7 linked regions of the Homo sapiens genome follow. The protein of the gene in region 1 purifies or fractionates together with the protein of each later gene. This does not show direct contact. Each region holds a gene or a part of one and is shown in the gene's direction. Other genes may lie near its edges.

The links.
Region 2: the proteins of HTN3 (region 1) and PIK3AP1 purify together in Homo sapiens (affinity purification with mass spectrometry, with the first as the bait; one study listed by BioGRID). This does not show direct contact.
Region 3: the proteins of HTN3 (region 1) and AMY1A purify together in Homo sapiens (affinity purification with mass spectrometry, with the first as the bait; one study listed by BioGRID). This does not show direct contact.
Region 4: the proteins of HTN3 (region 1) and PRB2 purify together in Homo sapiens (affinity purification with mass spectrometry, with the first as the bait; one study listed by BioGRID). This does not show direct contact.
Region 5: the proteins of HTN3 (region 1) and HRNR purify together in Homo sapiens (affinity purification with mass spectrometry, with the first as the bait; one study listed by BioGRID). This does not show direct contact.
Region 6: the proteins of HTN3 (region 1) and BPIFB1 purify together in Homo sapiens (affinity purification with mass spectrometry, with the first as the bait; one study listed by BioGRID). This does not show direct contact.
Region 7: the proteins of HTN3 (region 1) and FLG purify together in Homo sapiens (affinity purification with mass spectrometry, with the first as the bait; one study listed by BioGRID). This does not show direct contact.

What each region holds. Positions count from the first base shown.
Region 1 is NC_000004.12:70,031,459-70,034,248, forward strand, and holds part of HTN3 (histatin-3 precursor), read left to right. Parts: intron 1-520; coding exon 521-541; intron 542-619; coding exon 620-649; intron 650-1,708; coding exon 1,709-1,762; 3' UTR 1,763-1,795; intron 1,796-2,790.
Region 2 is NC_000010.11:96,647,515-96,651,014, reverse strand, and holds part of PIK3AP1 (phosphoinositide 3-kinase adapter protein 1), read left to right. Parts: intron 1-2,159; coding exon 2,160-2,356; intron 2,357-3,500. UniProt on the Homo sapiens protein: Signaling adapter that contributes to B-cell development by linking B-cell receptor (BCR) signaling to the phosphoinositide 3-kinase (PI3K)-Akt signaling pathway.
Region 3 is NC_000001.11:103,658,760-103,661,906, forward strand, and holds part of AMY1A (alpha-amylase 1A precursor), read left to right. Parts: intron 1-650; coding exon 651-784; intron 785-1,600; coding exon 1,601-1,723; intron 1,724-1,817; coding exon 1,818-1,917; intron 1,918-3,147. UniProt on the Homo sapiens protein: Calcium-binding enzyme that initiates starch digestion in the oral cavity.
Region 4 is NC_000012.12:11,392,768-11,396,997, reverse strand, and holds the start of PRB2 (basic salivary proline-rich protein 2 preproprotein), read left to right. Parts: upstream 1-1,430; 5' UTR 1,431-1,468; coding exon 1,469-1,532; intron 1,533-2,467; coding exon 2,468-2,503; intron 2,504-3,020; coding exon 3,021-4,171; 3' UTR 4,172-4,204; intron 4,205-4,230.
Region 5 is NC_000001.11:152,214,194-152,217,693, reverse strand, and holds part of HRNR (hornerin), read left to right. Parts: coding exon 1-3,500. UniProt on the Homo sapiens protein: Component of the epidermal cornified cell envelopes.
Region 6 is NC_000020.11:33,293,214-33,296,713, forward strand, and holds part of BPIFB1 (BPI fold-containing family B member 1 precursor), read left to right. Parts: intron 1-3,500. UniProt on the Homo sapiens protein: May play a role in innate immunity in mouth, nose and lungs. Binds bacterial lipopolysaccharide (LPS) and modulates the cellular responses to LPS.
Region 7 is NC_000001.11:152,318,740-152,322,239, reverse strand, and holds part of FLG (filaggrin), read left to right. Parts: intron 1-3,500.

The sequences.
Region 1 (2,790 bases):
CAACCTATCCACTAAATTCAAATGAATGTTTCAAAAACAAAATTGGTTATGGCATCACAGTTTATCACATGATTTTATTATAGAAGGATAGAAGTAGAAAAATAAACATATAAGAAGAACAGAGAAAAGCACAATGCCTGTCTCTATCAGCAAATAAAATATTTGTATGTTGGTAGCTTTTGAGCTACATAGAACATATTCATATAAAAAACAATCCAATGTTTCATTTTTCAGTTTCCACTCTCTTATTCACCAATGATAGACTTTTCTTGCCTTTCATAAAAAAGATATATAAACCAAAATGAGTTGATACTTTAATATAGCATATTAATTATAGAGAAGTTTACCCTTCACTCATTTTAAAGATGTCATAAAGCTAAAATAACTAATTTAGCATGTCATCATCCAAAGAATGCCTCCATTCTATTTAATCATAAATGTGGCTAAGTCAATTTTTACACATATTCTTGAATTATGAAATTAAGATATTAATTATTTTCTCATTTTCTTCTTTTCCAAGGGAGCTGATTCACATGCAAAGGTAAGACATTTTCATTTACTGGAAAACTTGATAATTAATCATATATTGAATTTTTAATCTTTTCTTTTTATTTCATAGAGACATCATGGGTATAAAAGAAAATTCCATGTAAGTGTTCTTCTGATAATGTGCACTCTGAATAAGTTTTCTTCTCTGACTATTTATTCTCCTAGAATAATTGATAGTTATCTCTCAAATATATTTATATCATTAATTGCTAAAGTGTACATTGATTTCATTTATTCTTGTTACAGAGGTAAAAGGTCACAAAAATCTTGTGTTCTAACAGCATTTCAACGGAAACTCAATTACACTCTGAATAAGTCAATTTTCAATTATTCTTTGAGAGCTTAAGTATCTTTCTCTTATAAATAATTACATTGACCTAAAGAATAGTTCCTAATTCTATGAATAATTCCTAATTCTATGAAGTATAACATATGCCTAATGAAGCATAGAGGCTACCCATGTAATGTGGTTTCTATCTTATAATATTTGAGGATGATAAAGTCTTTAAATTAAACTTACTGTGCTAAATTAGACAGAAAATTTTATTTAACATTTTTCTAAATGTATGTATAAAAATATCATATTATTTTGACCTCTAATATCAGTATGAATAGGGGTTCAAAAGTTCTGCTTACTAATATAGCAAGTATATGTGTTAAAAAAGCACTAAGTAAAATGATGCATAAAAAGGAATGAGGACTGTTTGTGTTAACAGCAGTGGGTATGAAAGAATGTAGGAGTTGTAAGAGAAAGTAAGCTCATTAAAAGAATAAGATGAAGAAACACCACCTAAGTTGGAAACGGTAACTTTCTCCTCCCCGTTATACTCAATGTTGGGCAAAATAGTAACTTGGAGGTAATGTTGTTAAGAAGATTTAAAACCTGTTTGGAGAGGTTGCCTATAATCAGTGTTCCAACATTTATTATTGCCACAAAAATATCAACACACAGTAAATACTTTATCATTTTTACTTGCTTTTAAACATTTTTCTGAAAGAAGAAAAATGTAACTAAAAATTTGAAAACATTTATGTAGATAACACACGAGGTCATAACAACTTTAACAATCTAAGCTTTCAGTGACAGTTTTTGTGAAGCATTTTTACTGTCATTGCCTCTATTCTCTGCAATTTGCTCTCTCCTTTTGTGTGTATGCAGGAAAAGCATCATTCACATCGAGGCTATAGATCAAATTATCTGTATGACAATTGATATCTTCAGTAATCACGGGGCATGATTATGGAGGTAAGCTGACTCTAGTTACTTTTCTTTCTAGAAGTATCAACACTGACAGTTAAAACAAGGAAAAATTAAAAAAAAGCCATTAAGCCAACAATCATTCCAGTTTAAGAAATGTAGCGTGGGTTAGCTCTTTGAAGTGTGTTGATTTATATAGATGCTTCTGACTTTGTAGATATGTGGTGTTATTTCTGAGGTCTCTGTTCTGTTCCATTGGTCTATATGTCTGTTTTGGTACCGGTACCATGCTGTTTTGGTAACCGTAGCCTTGTAGGGTAGTTTGAAGTCAAGTAGTGTGATGCCTTCAGCTTTGTTCCTTTTGCTTACAATTGTCTTGTGTATATGAGCTCTTCTGTAGATAATTATGAAATTTAAGTACTTATTTCTAATCCTGTGAAAAATGTCAATGGTAGTTTGATGAGAATAGCATTGAATCTATAAATTACTTTGGGCAGTAAGGCCATTTTCATGAAATTGATTCTTCTTATCCATGAGAATGGAATGTTTTTCCATTTGTTTGCATCTTCTCTTATTTCCTTGAGCAGTGATTTTTGGTTCTCCTTGAAGAGGTCCTTCACATCCTTTGTTAGTTGTATTTCTAGGTATTTTATTATCTTTGTTGCAATTGTGAATGGGAGTTCATTCATGATGCAGGTCTCTGCTTGCTATCTGATCTACGACAATCCTGACAAAAACAAGCAATGGGAAAAGGATCTCCTAGTCAATAAATGGTACTGGGAAAACTGGCTAGCCATATACAGAAAACTGAAACTGGACCCCTTCCTTACACCTTATACAAAAATTAACTCAAGATGGATTGAAAATTAAATGAAAAACCCAAAACCAAAAAAAGACCCTAGAAGAAAACCTAGGTGATATCATTCGGGACATAGGCATGGACAAAGACTTCATGAAGAAAATGCCAAAAGCAATGGCAACAAAAGCCAAAATTCACAAATGGGATCTAATTAAACTAAAGAGCTTCTGCACAACAAAAGAAA
Region 2 (3,500 bases), on another chromosome or scaffold:
GGAAATGAGTGATTTTAAATTGGTTTGGCGTAAGCCAATGGAGCTTGTTATGATTATTCCTCATAGGGATAGCATGAGGAACAGGTAAGCTAAGTACTGTCAGGGGAGGTTCCCAGTTGCCTTCTAGATAAAATCCAAACTGCTTAACCTGTGAACAAGCCCTCATCTCTCTCCACACTCCCTCTTGTCTTTTCTATGCTTTGATCTGCAGGAGGTATGAGCTTTTTTCACCTGTCTCTTGCCACTTAGACTCATGGAAAGATAGTCCTTCCTTCCTGCCTTGGTTGCTGTTTACCTGGCTAACTTCTCTCACTTCCCTGTAGCAGCTTAGGTAGCACTTCCCTAGAAGACCTTCTCCAAACCTCCAGTAGGTTCCATTCACCTGCTTTGGCACCCCCCGACCACCAGCATGTTGGGTGCCATTGACCTAGCACTCCTCAGCTGTGTCTGTCTTCTTTGCTAGGCTGTCCGCTCAGTGAGGGCTGGAACTGCTCCTGGGTGGCTGGCTCTTTGTAGGCTCTAAACAAGTAGTTGTTTAATGAGGGAGGAGCAGCCTCTTGTGCACATGTGACATGCTGGGAGCTGAGAGAGTCACACCCCTTGCACGGGGATGATGCTTGGTGTTCTGGACAGGATGCCTATTGTAGTGTTTCTGTGGACACCACCGTTCCTTCATGCCATGGTTGCACTACACAAATGGGACCCAAGTCTCTGGTTACCTTCTGCCTACGTTCCATCCTTCTGTAGTCTAAGAGAACCATAAGGGTGAGTTTACATGACTTTCGAGGCCTTCTCCTGGGGGACTCTCTTTCGTATTGCCTCTCCCCATTTTCCTACTATGGAATGTTCTTGCAGCACTTTTGTAGATGTGACTATTCTCTATTAAGTTTGGGGCTTAGAAGAAAGTATTTCATAGCCTGACAATTTGAGATCCTGGGAATATTTTCAGACCCTTCATTCCAAGGTCATATTTGGAATAGAAGGCTGGGTTTGTCATGTTAAAAAATATACATTTGTATATAAATGTATGTCTATAAAGTTGTTGGGCTTAAAAATAAACGTTTATGAAAAAAGAGATTTGTCCCCAGCTCCGCAAACACAAACATGTCCATTTTCTTGGTTGAGTTTAACTTGCTGTATTCAGATGTCAGTAGGTGGAGGGGGTCCGTGGGGACCCAGCACCTCTCTGGAGTACTTTGCTTTTCACCAATTAGAGAGTGAACTGACGTCCTGGTGGGGCTTGTGTGCATTAAGACCAACATTCAAAATCTCTCCTAAATAGGAACCCTGCTGAATACTATCTTACTTATCCTCCCAGGTCCTTTTGAGATAGTCTGGAAGTATTTTCTGGTTGAGAACTAAAGGCAGCGGAAAGTCTAAGGAACATACCCAGGATTACTTGGTGTACTTATCATGAAATTAGGAATAAGGGCTAAGAGGATGAACTGCTTTCTTTTAATCAGCACGAAACAATAGCTTTAAGAAATACATGCTCTGAACTTTGCAGAGAAGTTCAAAACATGATTCCTATTGTACTGTGTGGCTGCTAGTTAAGCCTTTAAACAAACCCGGCACATTTTGAACTGGTACTTTTTCTCAGGATTCTCCAGTCCTGTTAGAGAAGATGGTAGGGTATTCATTATTAGATTTGCTAATTAATTAAAATGTTATGGCCGGGTATGGTGGCTCATGCCTGTAATCCCAGCACTTTGGGAGGCCGAGGCAGGTGGATCACTTGAGGTCAGGAGTATGAGACCAGCCTGGATAACATGGTGAAGCCCCATCTCTACTCAAAATACAAAAATTAGCTGGGCGTGATGCACAGCTGTAATCCTAGCTATTTGAGAGGCTGAGGCGAGAGAATCACTTGAAACTGGGAGGCAGAGGTTGCAGTGAGCCAAGATCGCGCCACTGCACTCCAGCCTGGGTGACAGAGTGAGACTCCATCTCAACAAAAAAAATTATGTCCTCTGCATCTGAGGACATGATCTTCAGTGGTGTCCTGAAGGAAGCTGTTAGATGTTAGGTCAGTCAATCAATAAGTAATGGCTGAGTGCTTTCTGTTGCCATGCTAGTCTTGGCAGCTTCATCTCCATGAACAAGGGCACCCTGTGCCTTTATTTTTATCTGCCTATTAAGTTTTCCTTGATAATTTTCAGATCAGAGGGATGAAGAGCTGCCCACCCTGTTGCATTTTGCTGCGAAGTATGGACTGAAGAACCTCACTGCCTTGTTGCTCACCTGCCCAGGAGCCCTGCAGGCGTACAGCGTGGCCAACAAGCATGGCCACTACCCCAACACCATCGCTGAGAAACACGGCTTCAGGGACCTGCGGCAGTTCATCGACGAGTATGTGGTAAGGTCAAGGCAGGAGGGGCCCAGGATTGGAAATGCACTCTGTGGTAGTATGGCTGCCCTTTCACCCAAAATACGAACAGATTTTATCTCTAGCATGTCCTCATGTACCTCTTCTGGCCATGGGCAGTATGTGTGGGCTTAAGAAATGAGGTCTGGAGTCACATGGACCTGGGTCCAAATTCCTGTACCAACACTTGTTAGCCTTGTGACGTTGGGTAAGTCACGTATCCTCTCTCAGTTTCCTAATATGCAGAAGGAAGATAATCATAGTTTGAGTCATAGAGTTCTTTTGAAGGTAAAAGGAAATCATTTCTATTAAGCACTGAGGTTCACCCTCACAGAATTTACAGAAACCTTTATAGAGTGAATCTGCTGAAGGTAGAGGCTGATCATCTCCCCCCACCTCCTCACCTGCCTCCAGGGCACCATGGTGGGATGCTCCTAGCTGCCTCACCCGCCTTCAGGCCCCGGTGAACTGTATTAGGCTTGGTTTCTTCTTCAGCAGAAACCTCAATAAAGCTGTGCACCTGGAAAGGCATCAGGGCAGCAACTCTAAGGCCCACCTCCTGCTGACAGCCTCGCTCTCTCTTTCTAACCCCCTGCCTGGGTCCCATGTTAAGACAGGCAGGTATGCCCAGTTTATCTGATCATCTGGTTTGGGGCCCTCAGCTCCTCCTCAAACATTGACTTCTGGGTCCTTCTTTGAGGCTGATCGCACCCCACGTCTACATCTTATTCCATGCCCCAATATTGCCTCTGATGCCTAGGAAGCAGCTGCTCTTCCTGATCCCAGTCCCTCGTGGTTTTCCTCCTTCTTCACAGACTCCCAGAGGGTACCTGAGAATAGCTCAGCCTCTCGCATGGGGCTGTGACCTCACAGGGAGCAATAAACACAGCCCGGTCTTGCTCTCGACCTCCAGACAGGACAGAGCCTGATATCTCCCCAGAAACTTAACTCTCTGCTCTGTGTTGGAAAATCTACAAGACAGTGATTCACGGAGGCACAGAGGGGACTTCCCAGTGTTTACAGGTGTATAAGTGTTTTGAATAAAATGGTGTGAGTCCTTTTTTTTGGGCGTCACTGACACAAATAAGTCTAAAAGGTGCTCTCAGTCTGGGTGTATTTACTCAGTTTTTTCTTA
Region 3 (3,147 bases), on another chromosome or scaffold:
TAAAGACTGAGTCATTTCCTTAAAACAGTGTTCTTTAACCTCCTCTTCTTCACATACAGCATATCTAATTCTTTATCACAACAGGTTTTATGGAGGTACACAGAATGTAGGATACTGATAATAGTTATGTCTTTATTTTCTTTGGAAAATGAAATGAGTTAATATTTATCAAAAAAAGTCAGTCAGATAGTAAATATCGTATTCCTGTGAGCTGTTATTATTATCATTGATGTACAAGACTAAAAATTAGGTAAGTATTCTCACAGGACAACAGGTAACTTTGACATTATGTTTCTTTCAATATTGTAGTGTATACTTTATCAAAAAAAGAATATAAGAATATTACCGATGAAGATAATAAGAATAAGAAAACGATTTTGAGCGTTTCATATAACAAATAGGACCAGGCGTGGTGGCTCTTGCATGTAACTCAGCACTTTGGGAGGCTGAGGCAGGAGAATTCCTTGAGGCCTGGAGTTTGGGACCATCCTGGACGATATAGCAAGACCCTGTCTCTAAAGAACAAAGCACAACAAGTCTAAAATAACTCAGAAATAGCTGAAAGCTAATTTTTATATAATATAAACTTATCGGTTAAAATGCTTTAAAGTCCTTATGCAAAATGTTTTTTTTTCCTAAATTTCTTCTAGGTAATTGATCTGGGTGGTGAGCCAATTAAAAGCAGTGACTACTTTGGTAATGGCCGGGTGACAGAATTCAAGTATGGTGCAAAACTCGGCACAGTTATTCGCAAGTGGAATGGAGAGAAGATGTCTTACTTAAAGTAAATAAATACAACTTTTCCCCTGAACTATTTCATAGATCTGTTAGTCATACTACCCCAGTGCGAGTTATCTTCTGGAACATTCTTATTCAGACAACTATTAAGGAGTCAGTTGTTAATGATAAGTATTCTAGTGCCCTAAACTCTAATCAATCATCTTTTGTATTTAGAGTGTCTGTCACAAGACAGTATGCCTAGGAACGCTAAACTTACCCTAGGAGTTTCTGTCTGCGTACAAGATGAATATACTGGATTTGACTGATGTTTGCATATAATCTTTTAAAGCCAGGTTATTATTAAAATGATCCTATCATTTATAAAGTATGTACAAAGTGTCCATGCTATTGTATTTACTTATACGAATTGGAAATGTAAAATGATTTATATTATAACAATACAATATTAAAGCCTTATTTTAATCTAGTTTGACATTCTGTATAATGTGATGTGGATATTGATCCTTCTGGAGTGCCTCTAAATGATAATGTGCTGAAACCTCTGAAAGGAAATTTTTTAATAACAAACATTTTATATTTGTAATATGAATATAAGTATTCCATACATGTATATACAAATATGGACTATATATATGTAGATTACACACGTGTGTTTGTTTATGAGGTGTGTGTGTATATATATGTGAGTGTGTGTTTGTGTGTGTGTGTGTATATATATATATCTTACAGAGTAACCATCTAATTAGAGAAAGAATTTAATCTTCAGATGCCATGCCTTACAGAAAGAGATGCACAGTAGAGTTACTCTCAAACTATTGTGAAATGATACATCAACGTATATCTTATGTTTCAAAAATAGGAACTGGGGAGAAGGTTGGGGTTTCATGCCTTCTGACAGAGCGCTTGTCTTTGTGGATAACCATGACAATCAACGAGGACATGGCGCTGGAGGAGCCTCTATACTTACCTTCTGGGATGCTAGGTAAAAAACCAAGTTCTCTATTTTTTTAACACCTCTTTTAATGATGGTATGAATATTGTGATATTCTATGATAATATAATTATGTAACTTTCAGGCTGTACAAAATGGCAGTTGGATTTATGCTTGCTCATCCTTATGGATTTACACGAGTAATGTCAAGCTACCGTTGGCCAAGATATTTTGAAAATGGAAAAGTAAGTTTTGGAGTTGTTCAAAATATCCTTTTCTCAAGAAAAAAGAGGCAATCTTCTCCTAATTTAATATGACAACTATTAAGTGTTTATTTATTCAACAAATATTTAATTATTGTAAACCTGATACAGGATTGTGATTTAGTAATGCAGGTTATATTAAAGGAATAAACTTTATATTCTCCATTGAAAAAGAATAGCAAGCTTTTTCAGAGATATGACAAACATCCCCCTAGCCCGCAGGGAAAATAAAAATAAAAATTAAAAAAACCACTTAAAAATAAGAGCTAGGCACAGGGATTAAAATATATACTTCGTACCTTCCTCAGGTTTAATTGGAAGAATATAGATGCCAACCCTTGTAGAGAACTTAAAACATCATCTGCCCGTAGTGAGAACAATATAAATGTCTTTTAAATACTGTTAAAAAGTTATATGGAATAGAAACAAATGATCCAGTTCAGCTGAGTTAAATAGGGAAAGTATACTATAAGAGGAAGGAAATTGTATGTACTAAAGGATAGAAATTTATAGAGAGTATTCCAAGAAAGGTAAGAATGAGAAAAATATTTGGGAGTATGGTAAAGACATCACTCTGCTGAGTAGTTTCAAAAAGGAACAGAGAAATAAGAGTGTAAAGATATTTGGAAAGCTAGTAGAAGGTTTTCTTTTAAACTAAAGGGTTGAGAAACAGCATCAGAGACTTCAGAACTAAAGCAGAAATTCCTCCTTCCTATGAGTCACACAGATATCTAGCTAGCTTTTTTTAGATTCCTTTCAGTTTGAGAAGTCCGCTACTATGTATAACAACTGATTCTATTGTTAAACAGCTTTAATATTTAGAAGGTGTACTTTTATATTGAGACAACTTCTTATAATTTCTACTAATTGGTCTTATTTCTGTTGTTAGGAGTCAGAGAGTTCTTTTATTTTTTCTATTACTATAACATTCCCACTTTGACAGGACTGCTGCATGCTATAAACTCTTAAGTTTTGTTCACTTTTCACCATATGACGTGATTTTAAGGTGAACACTGATAAACTTCCTAGGGTTACTCTGTGTTTTTTAATGAAGATTTCTTAAAGTGCCAATCAGAAAAGCATAATACTAAAAATATGGTCAATTTATAAAAAAAAAATGTTCAGATGTAGTATTTTGTACATTTATCTAAAAAGAAGCATGACGGCCTCCAATATTTATTTAGCATATGTCATGTTCAAGGCATTTTCACA
Region 4 (4,230 bases), on another chromosome or scaffold:
ATGCACAAAATGTGAACAATTACACAAGACACACAGAAGGTCTAAGTGGTAAATGGCAGCTGTTGATACTGACTAACCTGTATATTCCATGAACTGATGAGCAGGGATTTACCAGATATAAGAGAAGAACCAGCAGCTAAAAGAAGTGCTAACAATGCAGGACTCTGAGAGGGCTTTTTGGAAACACAACATTTATTGTGAAATTACACAGACAGGAATGAAAAAAGATGGTGAGGAGTATATATCCTATTACTTAAAAGATTAAATAAAGGAAATCTCACCAAATTCATGGGGAAAAGCCAGCTACATAATAAAAGATACACATAATGAGCTTGACTCAGAAAATAAAATATGTAAAAGAAGTACTAGAAAGAACGTGGGGAGGAATGCATATCAGAATATTGTAGAAAAATACTCGTGGAAGAAGAATCTGAGAAAACAGGTAACACAAATACTGACTAAACCAATAAAACCAATAGAATGCAATTGAGGGTTTGATGGTGGTATCTGATTATCTTATTTGAATGTAGAATTGTGGCCACTTAATTATCAGTGGTAAGAATTCGATATAATTCCTAAAAGAAATGAAGCAGTGGGTGAATTTTATAGAATATTCTAGAGAAAGGGAAGAGCATGAAGGAAATTTTAGCAACATGACATCGCATGGCTCCCTCACAGAACTATGTATTCAGTTTTCTCAGGTCTAGAAATTTCCTGGTGGTTTCTGTGTCCATTTTGCGTTAATAACCTCTAAAATTACTTTAGAATACAAAATTTTAGACTTCCTGTGTTGTACAGGACCAAGCCTTGCCTCAGCTGAGTGAGATCCACAGAAACTTGAACAATAGCCCTATCCTGAGCAGGCTGCGGGGCAGCTTTCTGTCATCTATGTGTGCACAGAAGTGTGCTGTCCTCACACATCTCATAGATAGCAGAAACCATCTCTATCACATCAAAAATTGAGCTAAATATGAAAATATCTGTACACACACATCACAAGAGATGGAAATAGGGCATAATAATATCCAGAGATATTGACCATCTTCACTGCTGGTTGTAGCATCGCTGCTCACACACACATAAACAGAAATAAATAGCACAGTGGAAAGTGGATGATAGTCTTACCTAAAAGATTGAAACTCTAATGATATCTAAAGTTCAGTGATGACACAGTGCTGATGGCTTGGACACAGTTCCTTCAAAACCATTGTTCAAGTCATAGTTGTACCTTTTGGAAATAAGACACTAACAACATATCCTATCCAACTCATCTCTCTGGGCTAGAGTCTCAAAGAAAAATAAAGGAAACACCTGACCTGCAGTGAGCAAAGCAGAAGCCAGTCTCTGAGGTGGTGAGGCCCACCCAGTGTGGAGCTCAAAGGTGCCATTGTTCTTCTCCTCTTTATAAAGGGAGTTGCCACGTTCCTCCCAGCACAGAGTTGGGAGTGACTCCAGAGCCTCCTGCAAGATGCTGTTGATTCTGCTGTCAGTGGCCTTGCTGGCCCTGAGCTCAGCTCAGAACTTAAATGAAGGTAAAACAGAAGGGGGAGAAGATGTGGTGACTCTGCTTGGGGCTTAGGAGGTGATAATGGTAATTACGGGGAAGAGAGGAGAATGAAAACACAGATGGGGCTGCAGAGTTTTCATGCCTAGGATCAGGAGACTTGTTGTGCCCTCATTCCACAATAAGAGTTTCTAATTTATTTAATGTACAATGAAATCCAATAAAGAATTTGTTCCAGGGGAATGAGAAGGTAAGATTTGCATTTATAGATAGAACTGTGCTGTGAAGGATGCAGTAGAGAATGCAAGGCAGATTCATGGAAGTCCAGCTGTGAAGATCCTAAACTGATCTCAGTAAGTACACAGGGATGATGGTGGCCTTGCTGTACAGTGCATCAGCATCGATGACGGCGATAGACACACACAGTATCAGAGATACTGCAGAGACAGAGAATTGGATGGAACACTTGTCTCTGTTTAACTAGAGATACAGAAATATCAGAGCCAATCATTGTCATTTTTCTCTCCCTTACACGCAGTATTTCAATGTGCTGGGAGTGGTATGGGTAAGATTGTATTGAAATGATTACTTCTGGTTACCCCAATTGAGAAAGCATGTGTACATAAGCAATGTATTTATAGGAGATGGAGGGCATAAGAACACCAAAATATCACATTGAAGTACCTGGCATTTGTGAACTAAATTAGCATTAAGTCTTGAGGGATGCTAGGGAGGGAAAAAAGGGGCTCTTCTATGTTGAGTTCATGGCTGTTGCTCTGTCATAACAACCCTGCCTCCCCTTACACCTTCCTCCCCTTCCAGCAGCTTCACAGATGGTGGCTGATGAGTTAACTTAGGGGATGCATGGGGTGTGGTGAGAAGTCTGTTTTCCCTGTAGAACACTTGTGAGTCTTGTAAGGTTCAAGATGTAACTGTTCCCATCATCCTGTGCTTCTCTTCTAGATGTCAGCCAGGAAGAATCTCCCTCCCTAATAGCAGGTAAATCCCGATTCATTCTCAATCTGTTCTGACTGTCTTTTTCTGCTTATGAATGGATCAGTTCTCCAGTGTCTTCTTATCAAAACTTTCCTTTCGGGAATTGATTAATGTTAGTGCTCCTAATAATATAGGCACTCTTCATGCAACCTTGATTCTGGGCATCATGAGCAGGCCACCAAATTGAACGGCAGAGATGCTTGGCTTAGATGACAGCAGGAGTGGGTTACCTCATCCCCCTGGCCAGGAGTGCCTGCTGGGAGATGACAGACAAATGGGCAGCATCCTCATTCTGTCTCCTCTTTATAATGAGAGGCCCTCAACTGCTTTGTTCTTCCCTGGCGCTCCACTCCAGAGTTCTATGTCTTCACTGAAATGCAAAGAAATTAATGTCTTGGTCTCATTTTTGTGTGTTTCCCCACTCAGCTTGTTACCCAAACTGATAAAAATTTACTGCAACTATTCAGGGAATCTTGTATGGGCTTTTACTCTGTCTTTCTCTTCTCTCTTTGTTCTCCAGGAAATCCACAAGGAGCACCCCCACAAGGAGGCAACAAACCTCAAGGTCCCCCATCTCCTCCAGGAAAGCCACAAGGACCACCCCCACAAGGAGGCAACCAGCCTCAAGGTCCCCCACCTCCTCCAGGAAAGCCACAAGGACCACCCCCACAAGGAGGCAACAAACCTCAAGGTCCCCCACCTCCAGGAAAGCCACAAGGACCACCCCCACAAGGAGACAAGTCCCGAAGTCCCCGATCTCCTCCAGGAAAGCCACAAGGACCACCCCCACAAGGAGGCAACCAGCCTCAAGGTCCTCCACCTCCTCCAGGAAAGCCACAAGGACCACCCCCACAAGGAGGCAACAAACCTCAAGGTCCCCCACCTCCAGGAAAGCCACAAGGACCACCCCCACAAGGAGACAACAAGTCCCGAAGTTCTCGATCTCCTCCAGGAAAGCCACAAGGACCACCCCCACAAGGAGGCAACCAGCCCCAAGGTCCCCCACCTCCTCCAGGAAAGCCACAAGGACCACCCCCACAAGGAGGCAACAAACCTCAAGGTCCCCCACCTCCAGGAAAGCCACAAGGACCACCCCCACAAGGAGACAACAAGTCCCAAAGTGCCCGATCTCCTCCAGGAAAGCCACAAGGACCACCCCCACAAGGAGGCAACCAGCCCCAAGGTCCCCCACCTCCTCCAGGAAAGCCACAAGGACCACCCCCACAAGGAGGCAACAAACCTCAAGGTCCCCCACCTCCAGGAAAGCCACAAGGACCACCCCCACAAGGAGGCAGCAAGTCCCGAAGTTCTCGATCTCCTCCAGGAAAGCCACAAGGACCACCCCCACAAGGAGGCAACCAGCCTCAAGGTCCCCCACCTCCTCCAGGAAAGCCACAAGGACCACCCCCACAAGGAGGCAACAAACCTCAAGGTCCCCCACCTCCAGGAAAGCCACAAGGACCACCCCCACAAGGAGGCAGCAAGTCCCGAAGTGCCCGATCTCCTCCAGGAAAGCCACAAGGACCACCCCAACAAGAAGGCAACAATCCTCAAGGTCCCCCACCTCCAGCAGGAGGCAATCCCCAGCAGCCTCAGGCACCTCCTGCTGGACAGCCCCAGGGACCACCACGCCCTCCTCAAGGGGGCAGACCTTCCAGACCTCCCCAGTGACAGCCTCCCCAGTCATCTAGGATTCAATGACAGGTATGATTCCAGTTTATTCTTCACCA
Region 5 (3,500 bases), on another chromosome or scaffold:
GCATGGTTCTACATCAGGACAGTCATCAACCTTTGACCAGGAGGGATCTAGCACAGGCCAGTCTTCCAGCTATGGCCACCGTGGCTCTGGCTCCAGTCAGTCTTCTGGCTATGGCCGACATGGGGCTGGATCTGGCCAGTCTCCTAGTCGCGGCCGACATGGGTCCGGTTCTGGGCACTCTTCCAGCTACGGCCAACATGGGTCTGGCTCCGGTTGGTCTTCCAGCAGTGGCCGACATGGGTCTGGCTCAGGTCAGTCTTCTGGATTTGGTCACCACGAGTCTAGCTCATGGCAGTCCTCTGGTTGCACTCAGCATGGATCTGGCTCAGGTCACTCCTCCAGCTACGAACAACACGGCTCTAGGTCAGGACAGTCATCTAGGGGTGAACGACACGGATCTAGCTCAGGTTCATCTTCCAGCTATGGTCAGCATGGGTCTGGCTCCCGTCAGTCTTTGGGCCACGGCCAACATGGGTCTGGATCTGGCCAGTCTCCTAGCCCTAGCCGTGGCCGACATGGGTCTGGTTCTGGGCAGTCTTCCAGCTACAGCCCATATGGGTCTGGCTCAGGGTGGTCTTCCAGCCGTGGCCCATATGAGTCTGGCTCCAGTCACTCTTCTGGCTTAGGTCACCGAGAGTCTCGCTCAGGACAGTCCTCTGGCTACGGTCAACATGGATCTAGCTCAGGTCATTCCTCTACCCATGGGCAACATGGTTCTACATCAGGACAGTCATCGAGCTGTGGCCAACATGGAGCTAGCTCAGGTCAGTCTTCCAGCCACGGTCAGCATGGCTCTGGCTCAAGTCAGTCTTCTGGCTATGGCCGACAGGGCTCTGGATCTGGCCAGTCTCCAGGCCACGGCCAGCGTGGGTCTGGGTCAAGGCAGTCTCCCAGCTACGGCCGACATGGGTCTGGCTCCGGTCGGTCTTCCAGCAGTGGCCAACATGGGTCTGGCTTAGGCGAGTCTTCTGGCTTTGGTCACCACGAGTCTAGCTCAGGGCAGTCCTCTAGTTACAGTCAGCATGGGTCTGGCTCAGGTCACTCCTCTGGCTACGGACAACACGGCTCTAGATCAGGACAGTCATCTAGGGGTGAACGACACGGATCTAGCTCACGTTCGTCTTCCCGCTATGGTCAGCATGGGTCTGGCTCCCGTCAGTCTTCGGGCCACGGCCGACAAGGGTCTGGATCTGGCCAGTCCCCTAGCCGCGGCCGACATGGGTCCGGTTTGGGGCACTCCTCCAGCCACGGCCAACATGGGTCTGGCTCAGGTCGTTCTTCCAGCCGTGGCCCATATGAGTCTCGCTCGGGTCACTCTTCTGTCTTTGGTCAACATGAGTCTGGCTCAGGACATTCCTCTGCTTACAGTCAGCATGGTAGTGGCTCAGGGCACTTCTGTAGCCAAGGACAGCATGGTTCTACATCAGGACAGTCATCAACCTTTGACCAGGAGGGATCTAGCACAGGTCAGTCTTCCAGCCACGGTCAGCATGGCTCTGGCTCAAGTCAGTCTTCTAGCTATGGCCAACAGGGCTCTGGATCTGGCCAGTCTCCTAGTCGCGGCCGACATGGGTCCGGTTCCGGGCACTCTTCCAGCTACGGCCAACATGGGTCTGGCTCCGGTTGGTCTTCCAGCAGTGGCCGACATGGGTCTGGCTCAGGTCAGTCTTCTGGATTTGGTCACCATGAGTCTAGCTCATGGCAGTCCTCTGGTTACACTCAGCATGGATCTGGCTCAGGTCACTCCTCCAGCTACGAACAACACGGCTCTAGGTCAGGACAGTCATCTAGGGGTGAACAACACGGATCTAGCTCAGGTTCATCTTCCAGCTATGGTCAGCATGGGTCTGGCTCCCGTCAGTCTTTGGGCCACGGCCAACATGGGTCTGGATCTGGCCAGTCTCCTAGCCCTAGCCGTGGCCGACATGGGTCTGGTTCTGGGCAGTCTTCCAGCTACGGCCCATATGGGTCTGGCTCAGGGTGGTCTTCCAGCCGTGGCCCATATGAGTCTGGCTCCGGTCACTCTTCTGGCTTAGGTCACCGAGAGTCTCGCTCAGGACAGTCCTCTGGCTACGGTCAACATGGATCTAGCTCAGGTCATTCCTCTACCCATGGGCAACATGGTTCTGCATCAGGACAGTCATCGAGCTGTGGCCAACATGGAGCTAGCTCAGGTCAGTCTTCCAGCCACGGTCAGCATGGCTCTGGCTCAAGTCAGTCTTCTGGCTATGGCCGACAGGGCTCTGGATCTGGCCAGTCTCCAGGCCACGGCCAGCGTGGGTCTGGGTCAAGGCAGTCTCCCAGCTATGGCCGACATGGGTCTGGCTCCGGTCGGTCTTCCAGCAGTGGCCAACATGGGCCTGGCTTAGGCGAGTCTTCTGGCTTTGGTCACCACGAGTCTAGCTCAGGGCAGTCCTCTAGTTACAGTCAGCATGGGTCTGGCTCAGGTCACTCCTCTGGCTACGGACAACACGGCTCTAGATCAGGACAGTCATCTAGGGGTGAACGACACGGATCTAGCTCAGGTTCGTCTTCCCGCTATGGTCAGCATGGGTCTGGCTCCCGTCAGTCTTCGGGCCACGGCCGACAAGGGTCTGGATCTGGCCATTCCCCTAGCCGCGGCCGACATGGGTCCGGTTCGGGGCACTCCTCCAGCCACGGCCAACATGGGTCTGGCTCAGGTCGTTCTTCCAGCCGTGGCCCATATGAGTCTCGCTCGGGTCACTCTTCTGTCTTTGGTCAACATGAGTCTGGCTCAGGACATTCCTCTGCTTACAGTCAGCATGGTAGTGGCTCAGGGCACTTCTGTAGCCAAGGACAGCATGGTTCTACATCAGGACAGTCATCAACCTTTGACCAGGAGGGATCTAGCACAGGTCAGTCTTCCAGCCACGGTCAGCATGGCTCTGGCTCAAGTCAGTCTTCTAGCTATGGCCAACAGGGCTCTGGATCTGGCCAGTCTCCTAGTCGCGGCCGACATGGGTCCGGTTCCGGGCACTCTTCCAGCTACGGCCAACATGGGTCTGGCTCCGGTTGGTCTTCCAGCAGTGGCCGACATGGGTCTGGCTCAGGTCAGTCTTCTGGATTTGGTCACCACGAGTCTAGCTCATGGCAGTCCTCTGGTTACACTCAGCATGGATCTGGCTCAGGTCACTCCTCCAGCTACGAACAACACGGCTCTAGGTCAGGACAGTCATCTAGGGGTGAACGACACGGATCTAGCTCAGGTTCATCTTCCAGCTATGGTCAGCATGGGTCTGGCTCCCGTCAGTCTTTGGGCCACGGCCAACATGGGTCTGGATCTGGCCAGTCTCCTAGCCCTAGCCGTGGCCGACATGGGTCTGGTTCTGGGCAGTCTTCCAGCTACAGCCCATATGGGTCTGGCTCAGGGTGGTCTTCCAGCCGTGGCCCATATGAGTCTGGCTCCGGTCACTCTTCTGGCTTAGGTCACCGAGAGTCTCGCTCAGGACAGTCCTCTGGCTACGGTCAACATGGATCTA
Region 6 (3,500 bases), on another chromosome or scaffold:
TGCCTGGCGACTTTTTTCTTTGAAAAGATGATGTAATAAATGAAAAAATTTGGGGAAAAAAAATCCATAATCCTTTTACTTTCACCCAGGAGCGCTTTGATCTTTTGCAGATTGCCTTCCCACCTCCATCCACATGCACTAGTATTTTTAAGAGGCTGCTCTTGGTGTCAGCCTTTAAATCAGATCTATGTTTCAAAGTCATTATACAATACTTGTAATTATTAAATAGGTACATTGGGTTTAATAATTTACGAAAACATTCCAGCAAATCCTTTTTTAAATAATGTGATTTTATTAAGAGTACTTTAAAATGACAGTAGCAATATTTAAAACAGTATTTTAGGCCAGGGCCAGTGGCTCACACCTGTAATCTCAGCACTTTGGCAGGTCGAGGCGGGAGGATCACTTGAGCCCAGGATTTGCGACTTGCCTGGAAAACACAGAGAAACCCATCTCTACAGAAAAATAAAAAATTAGAATAGCTGGGCATGATGGTGTGCCCCTATGGTCCCAGCTACTCAGGTGGCTGAGGCAGAAGGATCGCTTGAGTCTAGGATGTTGAGGCTGCAGTGAGTCACAGTTGTGCCACTGCACTCCAGCCTAGGCATGACGGCAAGACTCTGTCTCAAAAACTAAATAAATAAATAACACTGCTTTATATAAACAATGTGATTCTTATTAAGAGTACTTTAAAACAATGGAGATTTTTATTTTTCTCCAAGTTGGCTTCCATGTCCTTACCTTCAAGAAAAATACAGTAAAACATTTAATCTCCATTTTGTGAAATATACATCAACTGTACAATATACTATTACGTTTGTTTCTCTAATAAGCTGGAGTTATGATTTTCAACTTCTGCTTCTGCACTAGTAAAGCTTAAGAGTAGCATGTATAGTCAAAGGAAGATCCATTATTTTAATAGTCGAAATATCTACATATTAAAGAGGCCAGGGAAAAATAAGTGAATAATCAAAAACTAAATAAAGCTCAAATAAGATCTTAAAAGGTTAATTTCAGAAGCAATACTGATTCAGCCCAATTCAAGCTACCTTTCTCCAGTACTTTTTTGGAAGAGAATGGGGAGAGACAGAGAGAGATGAGAAGGGAGGGAACCAATATAATGAATTAATGAATTGTGTGATATAATGAATATAATGAACAATGAATATAATGAATTGTGTGATCTCAAAGTTCAAGACAATGGCTTCTTATAGGTAGAATGTTGAGACTCCGACCTTTTAGCAAAGGTACGTATCCAGGGAGTTTTTTAAAGGGAATCCAAAAGTGAAAAACTTCATAACATTGGAATTTTCTTATGTAAGAAAGAAAATTTTGTTTCTTTGAATAATTTTATTTATCTGTTTCAAGGTGGGAATTTCATAAAGTAGGACCCAGCTGTAGATTTTCTTCCCAGCCTCCAGCAAAATCATATTTTATCTGGCATCACACTTTAATAGTTAAAAATATATTTTCCAGTAGAAAAGATGACAAAAACTTGGAATTATACAATGCTCCTTGCATAGTATCTGTCTTTAATGGTGAAAAGCTAAGTAGAAAGAACAATGTGTGAAAGCCGGCATCCCATTATCATCAGCAAATCCACTACATTCACTGGATTTGATATGATGGTCATAGAAATATTTTATTTGGCATGAAGGGAAAAGGCATAGCACGTTTAAGAGGTGAGCGTCTGGTAGGAGCTCATTTAGAAAATGTTGAGGCCAGGCGCAGTGGCCCACATCTGTAATCCCAGCACTTCGGGAGGCCAAGGCAGGAGGATCCCCTGAGATCAGGAGCTTGAGACCAGGCTGGCCAACATGACGAAACCCCGTCTCTACTAAAAATACAAAAATTAGCTGGGCGCAGTGGCGCACACCTGTAATCCTAACTACTTGGGAGGCTGAGGCAGAAGAATCACTTGAACCCAAGAGGCGGAGGTTGCAGTGAGCTGAGATAACGCCACTGCACTCCAGCCTGGGCGACAGAGAGAAACTCTATCTCAAAAAAAAAAAAATTAAAAATAAATAAATAAATAAAATGGGGATGATGGAATGACTTGCTTTATATAATTGTGAGTATTCCATAAGATGCATGGAAAAAAATCTAGCTAGGCTGGTCGTGGCGGCTCACTCCTATAATCCCAGCACTTTGGGAGGCCAAGGCAGGAGGATCCCCTGAGATCAGGAGCTTGAGACCAGCCTGGCCAACATGGTGAAATCCCATCTCTACTAAAAATACAAAAATTAGCCAGACATGGTGGTGGGCGCCTGTAATCCCAGTTACTCGGGAGGATGAGGCAGGAGAATCAGAGAGGATGAGGCAGGAGAATTGCTTGAACCTGGGAGGTGGAGGTTGCAGTGAGCCGAGATTGCACCACTGCACTCCAGCCTGGGTGACAGAGTGAGACTCGAAAGAAGAAAGAAAGAGAGAAGAAGAAAGAAAGAAAGAGAGAAAGAAAGAAAGAAAGAGAGAAAAAAAGGGAGAAAAGGAAGCAAGGAAGGAAAAAGAGAGAGAGGGAAGGAAGGAAGGAGAGAGAGAGAGAAAGAGAGAGAGAAGAAAGGAAGGAAAGAAGGAAGGAAGGAAGGGGAAGGGAAGGAAGGAAAGAAGGAAGGAAGGAAGGGGAAGGGGAAGGGAAGGAAGGAAAGAAGGAAGGAAGGGGATTGGGAAGGGAAGGAAGGAAAGAAGGAAGGAAGGAAGGGGAAGGGAAAGGGAAGGAAGGAAGGACGGAAAAAGAGAGAGAGGGAGGGAGGGAAGAAAGGAAGGAAGGGAGGGAGGGAGGGAGGGAGGGAAAATGTTGAAATCTTTTTCAGTGTAAATCCATGGGTCTCAACCCTCGTTGCACATCAGAGCCATCAGAACCTGAGAAACCTTTAAAAAATACTAATGGCTAGGCCCTACCCCAGATTCAGAAGTAACTGGTCTGGGTGGGTCCTAGTATCCCAGAGGACTCTACTGTGTAGCCAGGATTGAGACCTGCTGATAGAAATGAAGGATGGGGAATTGTGGGATAAAATGCAGAGGTTCCCCGGGACACTTTCCGGTGAGAAACAGGCTCCCCTGGCAGTGCCTGCTGGGAGTCTCTGAGCTGAAAGTCTTCCATCCTCTCTGGGCTCTAGATTGGCAATGCAGCCAGGAGCAGGGAACGGTTATTCATAGGAGTTAACATTTCTCAAAGGCATTGTCATTCCTCAAGAGTATTAAGGGGTGGTCAACAAGACAAAAATGTCCTCAATAATCTTGGAGCACTGCCCTGAAAAGTGAGTCAAATGTTTGACCTTCTCCCTAAGCAGAACAGCTCAGGTCAGGGTTAGGTTAGGTCAGAGTTTCTCAGCCTTGGTGGTACTGACATTTTGGGCTGGATAATTCTTTGTCTGGATGCTGTCCTATGCACAGTAGGATGTTTAGCTGCATCCCTGGCCTCTACCCACTAGTTGTCATCCCCTCCAAGTTGTGACAACTAAAAATGTCTCTAGAAATTTCCAAATGTCTCCTTGGGGACA
Region 7 (3,500 bases), on another chromosome or scaffold:
AGGATGATACTATACATAGTATATATCAATAGGATGATGCAGGCATACTAGTTTCATTCCCAAACTTGGAGATGAAAGCTTTCATTTCACCATTAAATATAATTTTTGCTATGACATTTTTCAAAGACATAATCTTTTATTTATTAATCAGAATTAATATTGGATTTTATCAATTTTTCATCTATTGAGAGGTTCATATAATTTTCCCCATTATTCTATTTCAGTACTTAATTGGTTGGTTTTCAAATGTTAATCCAAAAATGAATTTTGGAATAAAATGTAGTTAGGAATAACATATATTCTTTTTATATACTACTGAATTCAGTCTGCTATTATATTCTTTCAGAGTTTTGCATCTATATGAAAGGAATTGTCCTGAAAATTTTGATTCTTATATCGTTGTCAGGTTATGGTACTGAGGCCAGTTTGGATTAATAAAATGGGTGTTTCCTGTTTTTCATTTCTCTGAAATAATCTATGTGATGTTATAGTTATTTCTTTCTTTCACTTTGAATAGAATTCAGTAAAGCCATCTGACCTGCAGTTTCTCCCCCACTGGAAATGAATGCATTTAAGATTCAATTTCTTTAATAAACATAGTACTATTTAGGTTTTCTATTTATTGTTGGTTCAGTTTTGGTAACAAGTGTTTTTCTAGACATTTCTTCTATGTCATCTAAATTTTCAAATTAGCTGGTATAATGTTTTTTATAATATGCTCTTGTCATCTTTCTAATGTCTAAAACCTCGATAGCAATGTCCCCTTTTACTTTCCTGATATTGGTACTTACTCTTCTTTCCTTGATTAATCTTGCAGGGGTTATCAGTTTTATTAGATTTTTCAAAGGCTGAATCTTGGCACTGTTGGTTCTCTAAATTTTCTTTCTCTTTTATTAATTTTAGTTATCTTTATTATTTCCTTCATTATACTTTCTTAGGGCTTAATTTGTTCTTTTTAAAACTTCTTGAAATATATGCTTAGGTAATTAATTTTTCAGTCTTTCATATACATATATATACACACACAACTGTATGCTGCTTATAAGATTCACACATAAAAAATGATAACAGTGATTGAAAATGAAAGGATGGGAAAAAGAGATATCATTCATATATATATGTATGTGTTTATATACATATATATGTGAGTGTATATATGTATATATGTGTGTGTGTATATATATATAGGCTATAAATATCTATTAGGCATGGAATTAATGTATTCCACAAGTTATGCTATTTCATATTTTTCTCATTTTCATTTAGTTCAAAATATTTTCTAATTTTGCATTGTAATTTATTCAATGACCCATTGATTATTTAGAAGTCATTAATTTTCAAACACTTAAAGATTTTTCTAGTTATCTTCCTATTATTTAATGCTTGCTTCATTCCACTGTGTTAGAGAACAAACTCTATGATTTCAACCCTTTAAAATTTATTGAAACTTGCTTTATGGCCCAGTATATGGTCAATTTCAAAAGAATGGATATTCTGCAGTTGTTAGGTGTAGTGTTCAATGTATGTTGATGTTTTATTAATAATTTTGTAGAAATATTCTACATTCTTACATATTTTTTACTTCTTCTATCAGTTGCTGAGAGAAGTGTATTTAAATACCCCACTATGATTGTAGATTGCCTGGTCCTCCTTATACTTCTGTCGATTTTTATTTATGTATTTTGAGGCTTCCTGGAGAATTGATCTTTTATTATTATAAAATTTCCTTCTAGCAATATTTTTTGCCTTAAAGTCTGCTTGACAGATATGAATATAATAATAACAGCTTTCTTTTAGTGTTTGAATGGTATCTCTTTCTTCCACCCTTTCATTTACAATCATTTTAATCACATTTTATGTGTGTCTCTTATAAGCAGAATACAGTTGGTTTTTTTTAATCCAGTCTGACAGCCTTGTCCCTTAATTAGCATATTTACTCTATTTATATTCAGAGTTATTATGGAACTATTTGGTTTACATCTCTACAATATTACTACTTGGTTTCTACTATCTCACCTGTTCTGTATTTCTTTTTCTATTCTTGACTTTTTTGGATTAAGTTAATATTTACCAGTTAATTATCTTTATACAAAAGCTTATTAATTATACACTCTTTTATTATTATCTGCATCCTTGCCCTAAAAATTATAGCATGCATCCTTGATTTGTTAGGGTATATTATTAAGAAAAAAATACTTTAACCCCTACCCAAATAATACAAGTATCCTACAATACTTAACTCCATTTTCTCACTGCCTTATCTGGGATTGTTATGTATTTTAATTCTATTTATCTTAAATCCTGAAAGATTACTATTATTATTTTATGCAATCAATATCTAGCTATATTTTTCCACACATATGCTCTTTCCATTGTTCTTATTCTTTCTTGCTCCTCTGTGCTTCCAACTAGAATTATCCTTTAATATTTCCTTTACAGTAGGTCTCTGGTGATTAGCTCTGTTTTTCTTTGCTTGAAAATATCTTTACATGTTTTCTTTTTGGTGGATATTTTCACTGTTAACATATAACTTATTTTGCTTCAGAAAGATGAATATAACATTTCATCGTCTTTTAGCTTCCATTGTTTCTTTTGAAAAGACAAGTATCAATCTTATTGTCGCTCCTTTGAAGGTAATACAAGTGTTTCTCTGTCTGCTCTTAGGATTTCCTCATTGCCTCAAATGTTCAGCAGTTTTATTATTATATGTCTTGCTTTGGTTTTCTTTTATATCTCCTGCTTGGAGTTTATAATATCGTTTTGAACCTGTACCTTGATATCTTTCATCAGTTTTAGAAAATTTTGTCTTTTAATTCCCCAAATACTATATTTCCCTCTAAATCTGAATGTAAGCCCCAATAAATTGTCACAATCTTGATAGCTCTGTGATACCTTCAAACACACACACACACACACACACACACACACACATTTTCTAGTTGTATTCAGAGTTAGTCTGAAACTAATAAACAATTGCACAAAGCAATCTTTAAAAATCAAACCATATTAGATCACTCTCTTACCAAAAAATATCATCTAGTCTCATCACACCTAAAATAAAATGCACAAATGTCACCTTATTTAGAAGATCATTATCTGACCCGTCTGTATCTCTGACTTTATGTTGTATTACTCCTGCTTTGTCCACAATTTTCTAACTGAGTTGGTCTTTTTCTATATCTCTAACATGACAAGCTGATTTTCATCTTGGAATCTTTGCACTGTTCCTTGTGCTAAAATTCTCTAATTAACAAGGCTACTTCCTTCTTATTTTTCCATTTTAAGTTCAAATGTCCCCTCTACCACAAAACCTCCTTTCCTTAAAGTACCCCCAAATATTCTGTATAATAGCACTCTTATTTTAGTTATGTACATATCACTTATCAATATCTAATTGTTGAATTAATTTATTGTTTGTTTATTGTCTTCACAAAAGTAGGCAGGCACCTCATCTATCTTGTTCACTACTATATCTCCAAAGCATGAAACAGTGCCTAACC